Linked DNA regions of Homo sapiens: region 2 is linked to region 1. The links come from fine-mapping of genetic effects on gene expression. A gene starts in region 1. The other region holds a variant in brackets. All regions are shown on one strand. Distances are between the middles of the regions.

Region 1 (9,156 bases):
ACATTTGCCCAGGTTTTCTCTGCAAGTTTTTATGTTGCTTTAGCAAATCTGAATCTTGGTCCTGTTATGAATTAGTCTCTTTTATGATATTCAGTTCATGGACAACGTTCCGCTGGCATATCCTAAAGTCCAAAGCAGCTTTGACGGGCAGTGTCCTATGTCAAAGTTCAGATATGAACTCATATCAGTGTTTCTTAAGCTTAACAAAAACATAAAAGAAAAATTAAAATGGAAAAAGCTACTCATATCTTCTGTGTGTCTTTATCAGCCAAGAAAATCTTGCCTGGATCCATTCTGTAATTTATAATATACAAGGAAATGGCATTTTTGTGTTCAAATATATAAATTAAATAAGTCATATTAACAGTGGCATATATAGGCTGACTCTAAATGGAATGTTTTACATATATGATCTCTTATAATTATGATACCTATCATTACTGGGCCCTTTTGACAGGTGAGGAAACAGACCCAGAGAGGTATGTCCCAGGTCCCCTGAGGTGGGCAGGGAGCAGCTGAGCCCACTTGAGCCCTGGTCCAGCTGACCCCATGCTCTCTGCTTCCTCCTGTTGTACTTTTCTCATTCTTGGTCCTGATGCATCCCCCAGGGCTCACTGCCCTTAGCATCTGGTCCATCAACAATTATCCTCAGTTTCTTCTGAGCTGGGGGCCAGAGGACTCAGCTGCCTCCCCTACCCATGCTGTGCATCATGTCCAGCCCTTTCCACAGTTGGTAGTTATAGCAGGTGACAGAGTGCCCTGGCTGTCTGGTGCAGTTAGCTGGGCCTGCCTCTGGACTCTGACTTCTATTTGCATGAATGGATGTGGTGGGGGTTTGTTTGGGGGCTGAAGAGCAGAGAGGGAGTCTGTTGGCAGGGAAGCGTGTGTGGGGCTGTGGGTGAACGGGATCCCGGAGAGGATGAGAAAGGCCTGAAGCTGAGGAGGCTGTTTTCCATCAATGTTTTGCTCTCTGCGCCAGGCACCATCCTAGGGTCTGGGGGCTCTAAATGTGGACATGGCTGGTCCCACTTTGGAGAGCTGGCAGCTAGAGGGGGAGGTGGGTGACCTGAAGCTGGAGAGACCTGAGTTCTGGTCTCAGAGGTCTAGTCTCAGCACTGCAGCTTCTGAGCTCAGTGACCTTTCTGTATCTCAGTTTGGTCATCTGTACAATGGGGTTAACAATACTACTGACCTTGGAGTTGTTGTGATAAGTGCTAAGATAGGAGTGATGGGGGGTTGGGCACAGAGGAGAGAGGAGGGGCCTCATGTGATCTTGGAGGGCTAGGTGGTGTCCTGGAGGAAGTGCCATCCAAGCTGAGGCCTGTAGGAAGAGACAGGGTTGGTTACCTGGCAAAACTAGAGGAGAATCGGCTTCCAGTGGAGGCACTGGCTCTTTGGGGACCTGAGGGCAGGCCCTTGAAGCTGGAGTGACCAGCAGGAAGGGAACTAGAAGGTGGTCACTTGGCTCTGGGCTGGGCCACTTTTTAGGACTTGAGTATCCAACCGAGATGTGTAACATTCTCTCCACCAGCTACCACAGTCTACAGCCTGTGGAGGGTGTGGAGGGTGGAGAAGAGATGGTATAGAGGGTGCTGCAGTGTACCCACAGAGAGCACTGTGAGGAGGAGTCTTTGGAGGGGAGCTTGAGGGAACTTGGTACAGAGCAACCTCCCAGGAGTCTGGGCGTGCCCTGAGACAGCTGGGGCTGTGGAAAGGCATGAGCCCTGGGGGTCAGCAGAATGTCTGTGTGCTGGGCTGTGTTCCCGCTTCACTTACTGATTCAGCCAGTCAAGCATCAAGGATTTATTAAGTGCCTGCCATGTACCAGGCGCTGTTCTAGACACAGAGATGCAGAACTGGCAACACAGTCCACGATCTTGCTCTCCTGGGACTTACTTCCCAGTGGGGGCGAGGCAGCAGTTTTAGATAGAGTGTTCTGGGAGGAGCAAGCCACGTGATTGATTCTCTTGAAGGATGTGTCCGGGGGAGTGACCCCCCAGGTGGGGCCTGTGTGTGTTTGGGCTTTGGGGGGAATGGGAGAGTGGAAGGAGCTGAGGTCACTGAGGCATCAGGAGGCCAATTTGTGTAGGACCTGGTAGCAGGAGAATGACATGCTCTCTCTCTGGCTGCTATTGGGGAAGAAGACTCCAGGGAGGAAGGTGGGAACCCTTCCTTGATGTGGCGTGCTGAGCCTTGAACCCCAGCCTTGCTGCTGATGGCCAGAGGATGCCTGAACAGGTGCCTCAGCCTTTGAATGCTTCCTTTTCCTCTCCTGCAAAACCGCAAGGGCCACCATGAGAACTAGGTGAGACCACAACAGCCCCTCGCTGGCGGGCTGGATGGTGTGCTCAGCAGGGCGCGTTGTAATTAGTGTGATGAGCATGAAGGCCGTGAGGGCAAATCCCAGGCAGAGTGTGCGCTGCCTTTCATGCTCCCCTGCAAATCAAAAGTGTTCTGCTCTCTGCCCCCAGCACTGGGGCCTGCATGTCACCTCCCATCCTTCTCACGCACCCTCATGTCACTGTGGCTGGGAGTCCCATGAGGGCACGTGGCGCCCAAGGCCCTTCCACAGCAGGAGGCAGATGTGCAGGGGCTACGGGTTTCTGCTGCTTCTGACAGGCTGTCAAGGCCAATGTCCTGATGCCCTGGTCTGATGGGGAGGAACGAGTGCCTTGAGGACACTGAGGAGGGCCCCCCTGGCCAGCATGGGTATGCAGGGGAGCCTTCCTGGAGTTGGGCAGTCCATGATGAGAAGGAGAAGTTCTTAGGTTGCTGGTGGTGGTGAAATGAGAGGACGGGTGATCCAGGCATCAAGCACATTTTCATGTCTTTGAAATACCAGCATAAGAGAAGCAGGGGTGGGTGAGAGGGATTGAAGAATCAGAGCGGCTGTAGCTGGAGCTGGAGTAGGGTGGGGACAGACCAGATCACAAAGCATGGACTGAAGGGGTGAGACAGGAGGGCGGGGGAGCTGTGGGCAGGCTGTCGCAGGCACGTAGGCAGGAAGGGCCCTCGGGGGCCATCAGTGACTTAATGATTTTTACCATGTGCTAGATCCCAAGCTAAGCATGTTACATGCATAGTCTATCTAATCTTCAGTTTTATGAAGTGGGTTCTCCTGTTATACCCATTTCGCAGATGAGAATATTGAGGCTCAGATAGGTTAAATAACTTGACTGTGGTTTCATGCACAGCCAGGAACTGTCCATTTGGGATTTTTAATGCAGGCAGACAGAAGACAAGTTTTGTGTTTTGAACTTGTCACTCTGCCATCACCTTCTGGTCTCCAGGCTCTCGCAGCAGCTCTCTGCCCATTCCGTCATCCATAACGCTCTCGCAGCAGCTCTCTGCCCACTCCGTCATCCAGAACGGGATTGTACGATGAAGCCTCCCCTAGGTGATCTTTGGGAAATGCCACCCATCTCTGGAAGTGAGGGATGCTGGTGGTTACAGCTGGGTGGGAATCCCAGCTCCGCGACTCACCTGCTGGGTGTGATATTGTAACCCTGCCGATCCTCAGCTTCCTTATCTGCAAAATGTTAGTTATGGGGAGGAAAGGAGATAGAGGTAAAGCACCAGGCAGGTAGCACAGTGCCAGGCACCCGGAAACGACCCAGTGACGGTGCTCCTCGGATTCCTATTACTGCCCTCGTTTGCCAAGGCAGGGTGGTGACACCGCGGACCCAGGGGGTGCCTGGCCAGGCCCAAACAGGTGCCAGCGGCGCGTGTGTGTGGAGGAGCTGGGGACAGGGAGTATGAATCATTCACAACTGAAGCCTTGCATTATTAATATCGTTATTCTCAGACTTCTAAGGAGGGCCCAGCTGGATCCCATATATGGAAGGCGCGACTCAGCCTCCGGGGCAAGCACCTCCCTGGGTCCGGAGTTGCCATGGAGTCCCGCAGGCGGCCTGGAGGCGGTGCCCCGGGCTCGGCCCCCGCGCAGGTCCTTGGTCTGCGGCCTGGGTCCTGCCCGCGCCGGGGTCCACCCAGCCCGCCTTTGCGCCGGCCCAGGGCCGCTCCCCTGGGACCCTGGGGGACAGACAGAAGCTGGTGGGGACTGGCGCGGGCGTCCTCGGGAGAGCGCCGGGCGCGCTGGGCTTGCTGAAGGGCTCCAGGCCTGGCCATTCGGTGACTTCCAAAGAGGGGACGCGCCGCGGGGCCCCGAGGGCCTGAAATCCGCTCCCGCAGCGCAGCCCCGGGCGCGCCACTACCCCCGCCGCGGTCGACTGCGGGGCGACCGCTCGGTCCCGAAGCCGGGAGAGGAGAGGCCGGGCCTCGGCGGGCCGCTCTGGGCGGGCGGGGAGCGCAGCTCCGGAGCCAGGCAGTTCCCCGCGCCCGCCTTCCCCGACCTTTCCCGGCCGGCCCGAGCTCGGAGGGGCGGGGCGCCGGGCGGGCCGGGGCGGGGCCCGGGGAGGAGCCGTGGCTGCGGCGGCTGCCGCGTCAGAGCAGCGCTCCCGCTGCCCGGCGGCTCAGACACGGCCCGAGCGCCGCCGCGGACGCGGACAGAGACCCGCACGGGCACGGGCGCTGCGCTGGAGGCTCCCCTCGCGGTCCGGGGCTGCGCGACCATGGCGGACAAGGAGGCCGGCGGCAGCGACGGGCCCCGAGGTGAGCGCAGGCTGCGGGTCCTGCGGCCGCGGCTGGCGGGGCAGGGAGGGAGGAGGCGCGCTTGGCCCAACGCTCCGCACCCCCTCGCGCGCCGTGGAAAAGTGGGGACGCCCGCGCTGCATCCAGTTCTGGCGGGCGGGGCCGGGGTCAGCAGCAGCGGGGCCGGGGGCCGGGGTCCGGTGGACCGGAGACGGCCCGCGGGTCACATGTTCTGCGCCCCGCCAGGGTGCGGACTCCGCGGCGGGGACTGCAGCCCCCGCTGAGGCGCCTGGTTGGTCCCTGCCTCGGGTGGCGCCTCCTGCGGGGCTGGTCGCGCGTGCGGGTGAGGACCGCCCCGCGTGTGCAGCCCCCGCGCGATGGGCTGCGGAGGCCGGCGCTGGCTGGGTAAAGGGCCCGCCGCCGGGTGGCCGGGTGGCCCCAGCGGGTAATTTTCGTGACTCAGCGAGGCAGGAGTGGGAGCCTGGGGGAAATCGGAGATTTGGACCTGTTCCCTCGCCCCATCCCACCCCGGCCGGACGCTCGAGCCAGGAGTGGGGGCTGCAGCTGCGGCCGAAGGGCTTCTCACCCACCTCCCCGCCCATCCCCAGGGACTCACTGGGCTGGGGAAGGGTGAAGCGGCGGGGGTTCGATGGTCCCTTCCTTGCGGGGGGCAGGGGGAGGCACCCAGTGCGGAGGACAGACGCTCGCATTTTGCAGATGTGCTAGGGCCGCTTTCTTTGGGGAGCGTGATTAGGGCTCCGAAGGGTGGGGGAGCCGGAGAGGACGGGGAAGGGGGTTGCGGGAAGAGGACGAGCAGGTTTCGGAGCCCAGGGCTGTAAATCAAGGCTTCTCCCACGGAGGGCCCGGCTGGCCAGGATTCCAGTCTTCCTGTGGGTCCCAAGTGGGGAAAGTTGGGCGCATGGAGGCGCCGCGCGTCCCTGACCTGCAGGGCCTCGGCGAGAGCGGCCGCCGGGGAGAGGAGCGCGGCCCAGGCATCTTTCCCGGGAGCGACAGGCAAGCCGCCTGCGAGGATGATATTAAAATGCCGGGACGCAAGGGAGATTCAGCCACGAAACGAGCGCTTGGCTCTGCGGGGCCCCAAAAGCTGGAGAAACTGAGTCCAGTGGCAGCACAGCCACCATCTGCGCTGGGTTCCCTGTCTTGCTGTCGGGCCTGCGGCCCCCACCCTCTGCTGCACTCCAAGCCGCACCTGCCCCCACCCCAGCCCATTGTTCCTGCGGATCAGGGAGGTGCCTCCCCACGCGGCACTGCAGTGGTGGGGGAGTGCAGGGTGGCGGGTGGGGGATCCTGACAGGGCTCACTCCAGGGAGAGGCAGCGGAGAGCCCAGGCCGTCCCCAAACACACACCCAGTCCCCGCCTGTACTCTTCCTCAGCTGGTGAACGCAGGCAATGGACTGGCAGCTGTCTTTGTCTGAACATCACTCAGCAACTGGATTGACTCTTTTTTTTTTTTTTTTTTTTTTTTTTACTTTTTTCCTTTAAGTCAGAAAATAAAAAAATTTTTAGGACGATAAGTAGGGGCGTTGAATTGCTAAAGCCTGAGAATTACTGAGCCAGTTTCTTGCCTCTCATGCTGGGATAGGGTGGGCGATGATACCAAATACAAGGTTGGGCATAGGATTTGTCAAATCAGAAGTGGGCAGGAATGTGTACCCACTCCCCACACCTTTCCCAACACTGTTTTGTCTTGTAAATCAAATTCAGCACCCCTATCCTAACACACACACACACGCACACACACACACACACACAGACACACACACACACACACACACACACACACACACACACGGTGCTGGGAGAAATCCTGTCCAGGATGGGGACACCCATACCTGGTGTGCCGAGCCACCTGCCACCGCTCTTCTGCGTTTGTTCTGGAGTATTTGTTTCTTCACTTCCAGTCATCTCCAGCTCAAGGTGGCCAGTGAGAATTCCAGGTGCATGGACTTAGGACAGAGACCAACCTGAAGAGCGGGCTGTCCCTGGCAGCTCACTGTGCCTCTGGGCACCTCTCCCTTTATCTGTAAAATGGAGGATGTGAATAGTATTGCATAGGAGCAGAGTTGGCTTGCCCCTGGCCCCTACACTTATTTCTAAGGTTTCCTCATTGCTGGGAAAAGAGCGTGCATTATTTTATTGTTTTAAAGGCTCACAACAAACCTGTTACCAGCATTCTCCCCTTCCTGGGTGGGAAATCCAAACACAGGTTGAGTGACCTATCCAAGGTCACACATCTGGGAAGTGTTGTTTGGGACCCAGGCCATCTGATTCCAGGGCACCAACCTGTGCATACAGCCCTTATGCATGTGTGCAGTGGTTACCACTCTATTAAGGACATAAAAAAATGGTTGTGCTTCCTGGGAAGGATTTCCAGAATGTTTTTGGTACAAAAGGATGGGTGCCACAAATATCACACTGTTGGAATTTGTGAGCAGTGGCAGTCCTGGGTTGGGGAGGGGTTTGCTGGTGGGTAGGTGGTGTTGGGGGGTGGTGTCAGAAAGGCTGGCCATGAAATCTTCTCCAACAAGTGCAGTTGGGGTGGGGTGGGGAGTGGGCAGAGGTGCGTGCCAATGAAACAAGAATGGCAAAATGTGGTAGTTGGGTGATGGGGAGCGGCGGTTCATTACTATTCTGCTTACTTTGTGTATGTTTGCAAATTTTCTTAATAAGATGTTTAAATTACTTAATTTACAAAATCTGAAGGGCCACACTTGAGGGTCTGGGTGTTGGACAGCAAAATTTGAGATGACCTTCAATCCTGCCCCCTCCCGCATGACCTGAGTGGGTTGACACATGGAGCCCTAGAAGGGTGAGATGAATTGGGGGTGGACAGAGTGGTTCGGACAGGGATGGCTCCTATGGTGACCAAGTCAGGGCTAGACATGAAGAGTGGAAACCAAGTCATTTTTTCCAGGGCACGGGCTTGAGGAGAGGGATGGTGGGCAGGCAGTTTTGCCTGGGTTGAGGGTATCTCTCGAGGCCTGGCATTGGGCTTTGGAGATGCCATCCTGGAGGTTCATCTTAATAAAAATAAACATTTTAAACGTTCACTTTTATTGAGGACTTAGTGTGTGCTGAAACCTGGGAATATTGAGTTATCTCATTTAGCCCTGACCACGTTTGTTGTTGAATGAATGACTATGAAGGACGCCCTGTGATCCCCATTTCACAGAGGAAAAAGCTGACAGTCCTAGCAGCGCACAGCTGGAAGGGGGCCTAGGTAAGGACCTAGGCCATGGGATGCAGGCCCCAGGTGGTCAAGCTGAACAGCCTCTCCTGGCATGTGCCTGGCATGTCATAGGCCCTCAGGGACTTGTGTTGAGTAGGCCTGCGGCTAATAGAGAGTGGCTGCCCTACTTCCTTCAGCCACCAAGCTGTAGATGGTAGTGACAGGGCGCTGGTTATAGCCCCCAAAGGAAGTAAGCAAAGGTCAGGGTGATGCTCTGGGCATTGCAGGTTAGGGTTCTGGCTATGGGATCCACTTCCGTGTCAACATCTGCTGCTGCAACTTGTCTGCCGCCTTGGTGGTCCTCCCATGCCTTCTGTGTATGTCCCTACACAGTGTCTTGTGTTTCCCAGAGCCTTGTGATCGCCTTTGGCCCTGGACACATGCAGTCCTCCCTGCTTGGGACATCCTCTCTTTGTTTAGCAAGGTCCTACTCATCCTTCAAAACTCAGTTAAGGTATCACCTCTCAGGAAGCCTTCCTGGGCTCATCCATCGGGATGAGATCTGCCTGTGTGGTCCCAAAGCCTTCGGTACTTAATGGTTGATAATTCCAACTAGTGTTTGTTGAGGCCCTACGATATGCCAGCTTTGTATGCCTGTATCTCATTGACTCCTCCAGCAACCCTGTGAGGCTGGCATTATTATTACCCCATTTTGCTGATAAGGCAATTGAGGGCTTTGAAAAACTTGCTAACTTGCCCAACCAGTGAATGCTGGAGTTGGGATATGAGTCAGCCATGGAGCCTAAAATCTTGTGCTGTTTCTCTCAATGCTCTTTCTTCCGAGAAAGGCGTGGACTATGTCTTTCATTTCCATTTTTTTTTACTAAGGACACTAGTAGGTGTTCAATAAATGTCTTACTTTTTGTTGAGTGTCAGTCAGCAAGACATGAGGGAACACAGCAGAGGGCAATGGCGTCTACATCTTGCCCACTCCGCAGTGGTGCTCCTGGAAATGTGGATGCTCAGGAGTGGGCCAAGCTGGAGGGGAGTCAGGCAGGGCTTGGACAATCTCAGAAGAGAAGCTGCTTTGATTCCAATAAGGCCTGGAGTGACGACTCAATCTTGTGGGGGCGAAATGCTCTCTTTTCATATAAATAGGCCTCTTTGGTAAGGGAGAAAGCATCTTTATTACTGCTGTGCATAATTAGAACAGCGGGGAGGAATCAGGGGCTTTTAATGAATGAGCAGCGTGTGGCAGGGAATGAGTGAGCGCCTGCCACTGCGGGCACCCCCAGGCCTGGGCATCCCCAGGAGTGAGCGGGGCCAGCGAGGAGACGACCAAGGAAGCACAGGCAGTGCTCAGAATTGAAACCTG
Region 2 (9,156 bases), 44 kb before region 1:
TGTGGAGGGAGGGCCTGCACATTCCAGGCCTGTCCTGGGTGTTGGGGACACAGCACTAGCCAGACAGTCTCCTGCTCCTGTGCAGCTTGTAACTCAGTGAAAGCAGAATATCAAAGGCAAATAAACACGTAGATTTAGAATGCAATCCCAGGGCTATGAATACAAAGATAACTGGACGGGCCAGGTGCAGTGGCTCATGCCTCTAATCCCAGCACATTGGGAGGCCAAGGCGGGCGGATCACTTGAGGTCAGGAGTTCGAGACCAGCATGGCTAACATGGTGAAACCCTGTCTCTACTAAAAATACAAAAATTAGGTGTGTGTGGTGGTGCGCTCCTGTAGTTCCAGCTACTTGGGAGGCTGAGACAGGAGAATCGCTTGAACCTGGGAGGCAAAGGTTGCAGTGAGCCAAGATCATGCCACTGCACTCCAGCCTGGGCGACGGAGTGAGACTCTGTCTCAATAAAAAAATAAAAAATGATAACTAGACAATGAGATGGGGTCTGGGAATGGAGAGTGTCCTTTAAGGCAGGGTGGGCCAGAAGGCTTCTCTAAGGAGGAAATATTTGAGCTGGGCTGTGAATGAAGCCAGGGAAAGAGGCTTGTGAGTAGAGGATCAGTATTCCAGGCAAAGGGAACAGCAAGTGCAAAGGCCCTGGGGCTGGATGTTCGGGGAGCGTCAGGAACAGCAAGGTGGCCAGTGTGCAGCATGAGTGGGCTGAGGGCAGGAAGAGGAGGGAGACGTGAGGTTAGAAAGGTCATCAGGGGGCTGGGCGTGGTGGCTTACACCTGTAATCCCAGCACTTTGGGAGGCTGAGGCAGGCGGATCACGAGGTCAGGAGATAGAGACCATCCTGGCTAACACGGTGAAACCCCGTCTTTACTAAAAATACAAAAAATTAGCCGGGTGAGGTGGCGGGCGCCTGTAGTCCCAGTTACTTGGGAGGCTGAGGCAGGAGAATGGCGTGAACCCCCAGGGCGCGGAGCCTGCAGTGAGCCGAGATCCCGCCACTGCAGTCCGGCCTGGGCGACAGAGCGAGACTCTGTCTCAAAAAAAAAAAAAAAAAAAAAAAAAAAGAAAGATTATCAGGGTCCATACCATGCAGGGATTCCTGGGCCATGGGAGGACCTTGGATTGATTTCCAGTGTGCAGCAAAGCTACTGATGGAGCGTGGGCAGGGTCTGGTGAAGGCTCTCACTGGCTGCTGTGGAGGGAATAGACAGAGGTGGGTGAGGATGACAGTGGGTGTGGAGGTGCAGCCATAAATGGAAGCAAGACCTTAAGAGGGACGTCTGGGCATCCGGTGAACCTGACCCGTAGTCTGGAGAGAGCTTCCAGGGATATGAAGCATGGCCAGAGATAATGCCCTCCTCACCTAGAAGCAGACATTAGGCCCTTCAGAAATGCAAACGGGCACTGAACAGTCACGTCAGCTTCACTCTACGACGTGTTGATAGTCAATATCCTGGATGATGCACCTTAAAAACGAACCCTCAATTCCATGCCTAGGAATTTACTCAGCAGGAATAATCAGACAAGTGCACAGTGACTACATCCAAGGTACCACTGTAGCTTTGTTCCTGGCAGAAAAAGTATAAGCAGCTTGAGTGTTCACCAACAGGGCATTATTCAGCTAAGTCATAGCACATTCAGGATTCAGAATTCTATCATCGAGAGGATAATATTTTTAAAAAATCTTATAAGGGGAGAGAAAGTAAAAGCTACAACTTATACTCATCCTTCATTTCCCAGTCTTATTTCCTAAGAGAGTTTCTGGAGTATCCTTCAAGAAACATTTTCTTCTCAGACACAGGCATATACATATATATCTATATATGTCTATATATCAATACATATATAATGGTATATGTATATAAATATATTTTTGTAAGCTAAAATAGGATACTTCTATACGTATTATTTTGTAATGTAATTTTATTTTGCGATGTGATATATCTTTGACATATTGCAGCACCAGTGCATTAGATTAATAGCTGCATAGTGGCTGGGTGCGGTGGCTCACACCTGTAATCCCAGCACTTTGTGAGGCCAAGGTGGGTGGATCACCTGAAGTCAGGAGTTCGAGAGCAGCCTGGCCAACATGGTGAAACCTTGTCTCCACTAAAAATACAAAAATCAGCTGGGCGTTGTGGCAGGTGCCTATAGACCCAGCTACTAGGAGGCCGAGGCAGGGAGAACTGCTTGAACCCGGGAGGTAGAGGTTGCAGTGAGCTGAGATCTTGCCACTGCACTCCAGCCTGGGTGACAGAGCAAAACTCTGTCTCAAAAAAAAAAAAAAAAATAGCTGCGTAGAATTCTACCAGATGGATATATCATAATTGACTCAGCAAGTTTGCTATTAATAGATAGTTTCTCTCATTTATGTGAGTTTATCTGTGGGTATATTTTCACACGTATAACTTTTTCAATTGAAAATATTAAAAATGATGATGTAGCATGTATTATTGTGCAGATACCCACAATATATAATTAAGAGAAAAAAATCAGGCTACAAAATTGGGTGTGTTGCACAGTCCCATTGCTATCCATTTGCATGTATCTCTGTGTATGTGTTGATAGAGTCTGGAAGGATACTCACCAAAATGCTAGCAAGAGCTACAGATCACAGCCTGGTGACTGTAGGTGTCTCTTTTTCCTAGTGCTTTTCATTATTGTTTTTTTAGAATGAGAATATGTATTTTGCAAGGGGAGAAACAAGCTATTGTATTTTGGGAGAAGAGTTAGTTGGGAACCAGTTTGCGAACTATATTTAAAATATGAATTTTGCGTTTGCATCTGTGCTTTTCTTACTGAGTACTTGTTTTCGCTTCGGTATTAAATGGTACTTTTTTCTTCTCCCGTTTGGAACACTCAAGCGTGGGCCCGCCTATGGACCTGGGCGCAGTTCACCAGCTCCACCACCAGAGGGCGGCGTTTGCAGGATGTTGTGCGCACGGCCGCCTCCCGCCGTTTGCGGGGGTCTAGAATTTTGCAGGATGTGCTTTGGTCGGCTCGGCCAGAGTAGAGACAGGATGTACGCGCGTTGGTTTCCAGTTGGTGCTGTGACACAGATATTTTTCCTTCCTCTGCTTTTAGCGTAGCATCTGAATTTAACGGCGTTGCGTGGAGGTGGCACGAGGGAGGGATTGGCTTGCAGAGCTCCCGCCCTGCCGTCCTGGAAGCCCTCCTATCCCCGACCCTCAGGCCAAGTCACTGTCCCCAACTTCCACCATAGACCAAGCAGACTCCTACCTTCAGAGTCTGACCTGATTCCAGGGGATTTAGGGTGCCCCCACGCTGAAGCCAGTTTGGAGGCTTCACTCGCACCCCTCCATGACCAGGCACTCCACTTCTTAGTCCTTGTGCCAAGCGGCTGCCAGGCACTCTCTTCCCTTCTTTCCTCTTCTTTTCACCTTCTGAAGTTTTTGGAAAAAGCAGTGCATATTAATAATAACAATTCAAACAACACAAAAGGGGGAAGCAAGTGAAAACTAAGCTCCCCGCCTCCCACCCTAGCCCCACTTCTTCCCCAAAGGCCATAATTGTTAAGAGGTTTTGGAAAAGTATATCCTTCCAGAAATTCTAGATGCATATAAAAATACAGACGCCTGTACGTTCAAAACCACACCCTCCACTCAGTTTCTCGTTTGCATTTAGCAATGACGCTGAAAGCCTCCCACATCACTTCACAGAAGGCGCCTGTGGTTTTTTTTTTTTTTTTTTTTTTTGCTGGCTAGAGAGTATTCTAGTATGTGGATGTGACATGCTTGATTTGACATTTGGGCACTTTCCAATCTTGTGCTTATTAGGAGCAGTGGGCAGTAAATATCCTCTATACACAGCTTTAAGCACCAATGCAAGAGCTGCTGTTGACTAAATTATTAAGAGTGGAATTGCTGGTCAGAGGGTAGAGGCCCTTCTAGCTTTGGTATTTCC[A/G]GATTGCTCTGCAAAGGACTTTTAAACCAGGCCGCACTCCCACCCAGAATGCATGAGATCCCATGGACGTTTTTGCCCTTGGTTGATCTGACAGGTTGCTGGTTCTCAATCTTGACTGCAGTCAGAATGACCTGGGGAGCTTTCTAAATATGCCAACACGACAGTATCCCAGACCAATTAAAGCAGAATCTGACCGTGTGTGTGTGAGTGCGTGCGTGTGTGTATGTGTGTGTGTGTGTGTGTGTGTGTCCGGGAGGTGATTGGGCATTGGCACTTAAAACATGTCCCCAGGAGGCTGGGTGCAGTGGCTCCTACCTGTAATCCCAGCACTATGAGAGGCTGACGCAGGTGGATCACCTGAGGTCAGGAGTTCGAGACCAGTCTGGCCAACATGGCAAAACTCTGTCTCTACTAAAAATACAAAAATTAGCTGGACGTGGTGGTGGGCACCTGTAATCCCAGCTACTCAGGAGGCTGAGGCATGAGAATTGCTTGAACCTGGGAGGCAGAGGTTGCAGCGAGCCAAGATTGAGCCACTGCACTTCAGCCTGGGTGACAGAGCCAGACTCTGTCTCAATAAATAAATAAATAAATAATTCCCCAGGAGATTCTAATAGGCAGCTACAGATGAACGCCACTGAGACAGATGAGAAAAATATACCATTTAAATGTACATTTCTTGAATTATAAATGAGAACGAACATTTTTCTGTGAGAACAATGCTTTAGACATTTCTTAGATCATGGATCCCTTTGAGATTCTGACAAAAGCACTAGATCTTTTTTTTCTTTTTTTTTCAGGAAAATGTGCACACACGCACCTGTGCCTCTACCTGAGGGGCCATAGGCCCTGGAGCTGCTCCCTAGACCTCCCTAGAGTCCTGAGCCCAGGCTAGGGGCAAGGCGGAGTTGTTCTGCGCAGCCTGTTTCCCCACCAAATTACCAAAAATATAGTTAAACTTAGGAATTCAGTTTGATCCATAACATAAACAGTCTATTTTAAGAAGTATTTACCACTGTGTCTCAGCCCCTGGGAGCCCTGCCTTCCATGCAACCCCACTGCTGAGATTTGCTGAGAGTCTCTTCTGCAGAACCCGCTCCATCTCCTGCGTAATTACCCGAGAGGCTCCACGTGGGGCTTCTCTGGCGCTAACCTCATAGGTGAACCTCATGAAGCTACAAAGATTCCCAGTGCACAGGTGGGCGTTAGATCAGCAAAGGCCTCATGACGGGTGCAGGAGTCGGGATGTCTCCCAGGGCCACAAAGAGATGTAAGCAGGGGAGGATGCTAGACCACTCAGGCAGAGTCTGAGTAGGCCATGGGGTGGGCCTGCAGTCTAAGGTGAGGGGAGGGGGGGAAATAGGAGGAATCTTGCGGTATTAGGGCAGTGGGGCAGGAGGGCTCAGCGGGGAAAGGCAGAGTCAAGTGGGTGCCTGGCTTCTGGCTGGGATAACCGGTGGATGGCTGAGACCATTCCCTGGGAGGGAGGGGGTGACAGCAGATGCCAGTGCTCAGAGGGCAGGTGGATATTTGGGGTAGTGTGTGTGTGTCTGTCCGAGAGGAAGAGAGAGGGATCATGAACAGCAGCATGCGGTGGGCAGCAGAGCCCGAGTGTGCGTTCCCCCAAGGCTGGGGAGTGAGCTGGGCTTTATGAGTGGGCACCTGCTGACCCCTGCATTGAGGTGGAGGCTTAGAGGGAGAACCAGGGAGGCAGGCGGGGATCTGGGTGGGGGACAGCCGTCCTGGGGCTGGGGTCAGGCAAGAACATTTCTGTCACAATGCCCTGATGCCATGCTCTGCTGGTGGCCAGGACTGCTCTCAGCTCCCACATCTTGATCTCTGTCCCCGGGCTGCCATGTCCACTGGCAGGCCTGGGTCGGGGCCGTTCCTCCTTCCTCCACAGCAGCACTAGGCTGTGGTGGCCAGAACGTTCCCGAACAAGACATCAGTCCTTGCCTGTGTTCCAGAATTCATACTCCTCCTTCCCACTACCTGAGGCTTTGGACATTTGAATGATGGTGGCGGTGGGTGGGAGGGGGAGGAAAGGAATCTGAGAGTGGACATGCAGGGGTCAAGCCCCAAAGCCATCTCAGAGCAGGGCACAATGAGGGTTTCCAGGACGCCCCTCCCAAAGGCTGGGAAATGTCTCCTCTGGAATCCAAGCTCCAGAGCCTCTTGTTGGTCCTCAACTTGTTATTAGGGCCTGAGGTGCTTCATGATGCCAAGAAAAGAGGAACACAGCAGGGCCTAGAACCAGCAGGACTGGGGCCTCTCTGGTTTCTCCTGTTGGCTCCTGCCTAGGAGCAGCTGCCTCCCTGTCTGCTGTTGTAGACACGTGCCCTCAGCATCTCCAGCCCAGACTGACAGCTCCGAGGTTAGCGTTACAGGCTCAACCCCAGACGGAGAGGCTCTGTCTATGTTGATTTCTATTTATCCCATCTAGTCCAAAGATCCCAGGGAAGGGATTCATTGACCCAGCTCAGCCAGGGACTCATTCCTCAGCCAGTCAGCTGGGGCCGGAAGCACAAGTCCCCAACTGCAAGGGCAACACGTGGAGGGAACGGGAAGGAGCAACTCTTGCTAAAGGGACGCTAGGCAGACAACTTCATAAATGTCAATCATAAGCCAATCTTAAAGGCATTCACTCATTCCTGCACTCATCCATTCATTCATTCATTCATTCCCTCAACAAACCTTTATTGAGCACCTACAGAGTCCAGGTACCACTCTAAGTGCTAGGCTTACTGAAATGAACAGGACAGATGAACTTCTTGCTCTAGTGGAGCTTACACGCTAATAGGAAGATAAACCAATAAACGAGAAAGTGACCAGGATGTGAAAAATGCTCTGCAGAACAGAGAAATCAGGCAATGGACTTTGGAAAGTGCTCAAAGACCCTGCGCTGCCACTTGCAGGGCAAGGGGCCACCTAGGTCAGGAGCGGCCTGCCTTGGAGAGACATGCATCACCCCAGCCACTGCCCATTGGCCAGAGCAAGTCACAAGGCCCCAGCCTAGCCACAAGGGAAGCTGGGAAATGTGACTTTTGTGTGTCCAGGAAGAGGAAATGGGATTGGCAAGCACATGGCCAGTCATGGCTGTCCCACTTAGCCATCTGGTTCCCTAAGAGGTCAACACTGCAACCAGGTCCTGATGTGTCCTTCCAGTGAGATCTTTTGGATACATAAGAAAAAAATAGATGTAATTATGTAATTTTAAAAACCATAAATGGGCTGGGCATGGTGGCTCATACCTGTAATCCTAGCACTTTGGGAAGCTGAGGTGGGTGGATCACTGGAGGTCAAGAGTTCAAGACCGTACTGGCCAACATGGTGAAACCCTGTCTCTACTAAAAATACAAAAAAGTAGCTGGGCGTGGTGGCACATGCCTGTAGTCCCAGCTACTCGGGAAGCTGAGGCAGGAGAATCGCTTGAACCTGGGAGGCAGAGGTTGCAGTGAGCCATTGCACTCCAGCCTGGGCAAGAGAGTGAGACTCTGTCTCAAAAAATACCCATAAATGGTGGTATACTAACACACCATTCTGTTCCTTGCTCTTTTTTCCCCCCACTTAAGACTATATCACAGACAACATTGGAGGATTTGGATCTGGGCAAGAATGTGCCCCAGTTTATGTGTTACAAAACTCACCCTGGCTAGCGGGAGAGAGTGGACTGGGGTGGGGACGGTGGGTCAGGACTGTTGCAGCTGCTGCAGTTGACGGCTGTAGCTCTTTGTCCGTGTGCAGCCTGTGCTCCAGCCAAGTCCACCCACACGCTCATTCATTCAGTGCTTGACAGTCAATAATCGTGGGCAGACCCTGGGCCACATGAGTCAGGCTCTGTCCCTCTTCCCACTCACTGTGCCCCGAGCCATACTGCTGCACACTTTGCCAGGGCACAGGCCACCTTCTGCCATCCAGGCTCCTCTGCCACTGACTCCTCCAAATTCTTCCAGACATGTCTCCAACGTCACCTCCTCATCAAAGCCTCTCCTGATCCCCACAGCACCACGTCGATGGTGTGGAAAGAGGGACCTGGACTGGAGGTGTCTCAGCCCCAGCCCTTCCCATTGGCACTTCCTGGAGAAACAGCTTAGTCTTTCAGAGCCTCAGTTTGCCCATCTGTGCGCTGGACGTGATTGGTATCTGTTTAACACATTGCCTGTGTGGATTACGTGGGAAAGGCTGTGGAGAGACCTGGCATCTGAGTGGCAGGAGACATTTGTCATTTCCCTTCTTTCGCCTTGGGGCCCACCATGTTCTCTGCCTCTCTGAGGTTACTTCTAAGGCTTCCAGTACCCTCCGTGAGGGTGACCCTGTGTCCTGGGCTTGGTATGTTGCCAGGCATCAGGCCTGGGAGTCAGTCTCAGTGTCTACTCAGCGATTTTGTTGAAACTGAGAGTCCACCACCCAGCTTAAGACGTAGAACATTGTTGGCACCTGTGAATCTACTTGCACAAGCCTTGGTGATCCTGTCCTCTTCCCTGACCAGGCAGCCCCTACCCTGAATAGCATCTCATTTATTCCCTTGTTTTTAAAAAGCAGTTGATAGCATGTCTATGAGCCCTACCTGAATAGTCTGTTTAGTTTTGCTTGGTTTTTATGACAATAGTGTCACACAGGAGGCATTTTTTTGTGACTTGCTTTTTCTTTTGCTCCACATTACAACTCTAAGCATCATCCTTGTTGCTGGGTGTACCTGTAGTTCATTCCTTTGCAATGTTAGGTAATGTTCCACCCGGGACTATGCCACAATTTATTTATCCATTCTTCAGTCAAAGGACAACTCCCTCTCCCGATTTTGGTTGTTACAAAAAGCGCTGCTATCAGCCTTGTCATATACGCAGGCTTGGGCACAGGCACTAGGCTATGCTAGTGGGGTTGCTGTGTCAAAGCTCACGTATCTTCAGCTTTTCAGAGATTGCCAAATTTCCAAAACAGTCGAATAAGCCTCTTTCTAGCTTTGTGTAAAGATCCCCGGTGCTCACCCACTTCCTCACCAACCCTTGGGATAGTCACATTTCTGAGTTTTGTCCATCTAGTGAGCACAAAATCTCATCTTATGGTCTCACTTTGTGTTTTCTTGGTCACAGCTGAGGTTGAGCATCTCTGCGAACGTCTCTTTGCCCTTCTTGTGGGCCTCTTTTGTGACATGCCTGACCATTGTTCTCCCTCATTTTTGTATTGGGTTGTTTTTTGAAATTGACTTGTAGGAGTTTTTAT

Evidence for each region.
Region 2: its variant is fine-mapped to the expression of HSPA12A in spleen (GTEx, PIP above 0.99).

The regions. Positions count from the first base shown.
Region 1 is chr10:116,737,885-116,747,040 of GRCh38, reverse strand. HSPA12A (heat shock protein family A (Hsp70) member 12A) reads left to right here and starts at 4,475. Exons shown (of 12, transcript NM_025015.3): 1 at 4,475-4,611. The coding sequence starts at 4,572. RefSeq lists enhancers at 3,202-3,905, 3,906-4,610 and a silencer at 4,161-4,610.
Region 2 is chr10:116,782,013-116,791,168 of GRCh38, reverse strand. It overlaps a transcript of HSPA12A not described here. Among named protein-coding and RNA genes, the nearest start is that of MIR9851, 41 kb to the left of the region's middle. RefSeq lists a silencer at 6,205-6,371. The variant A/G (reference allele first, on the strand shown) is at 3,937.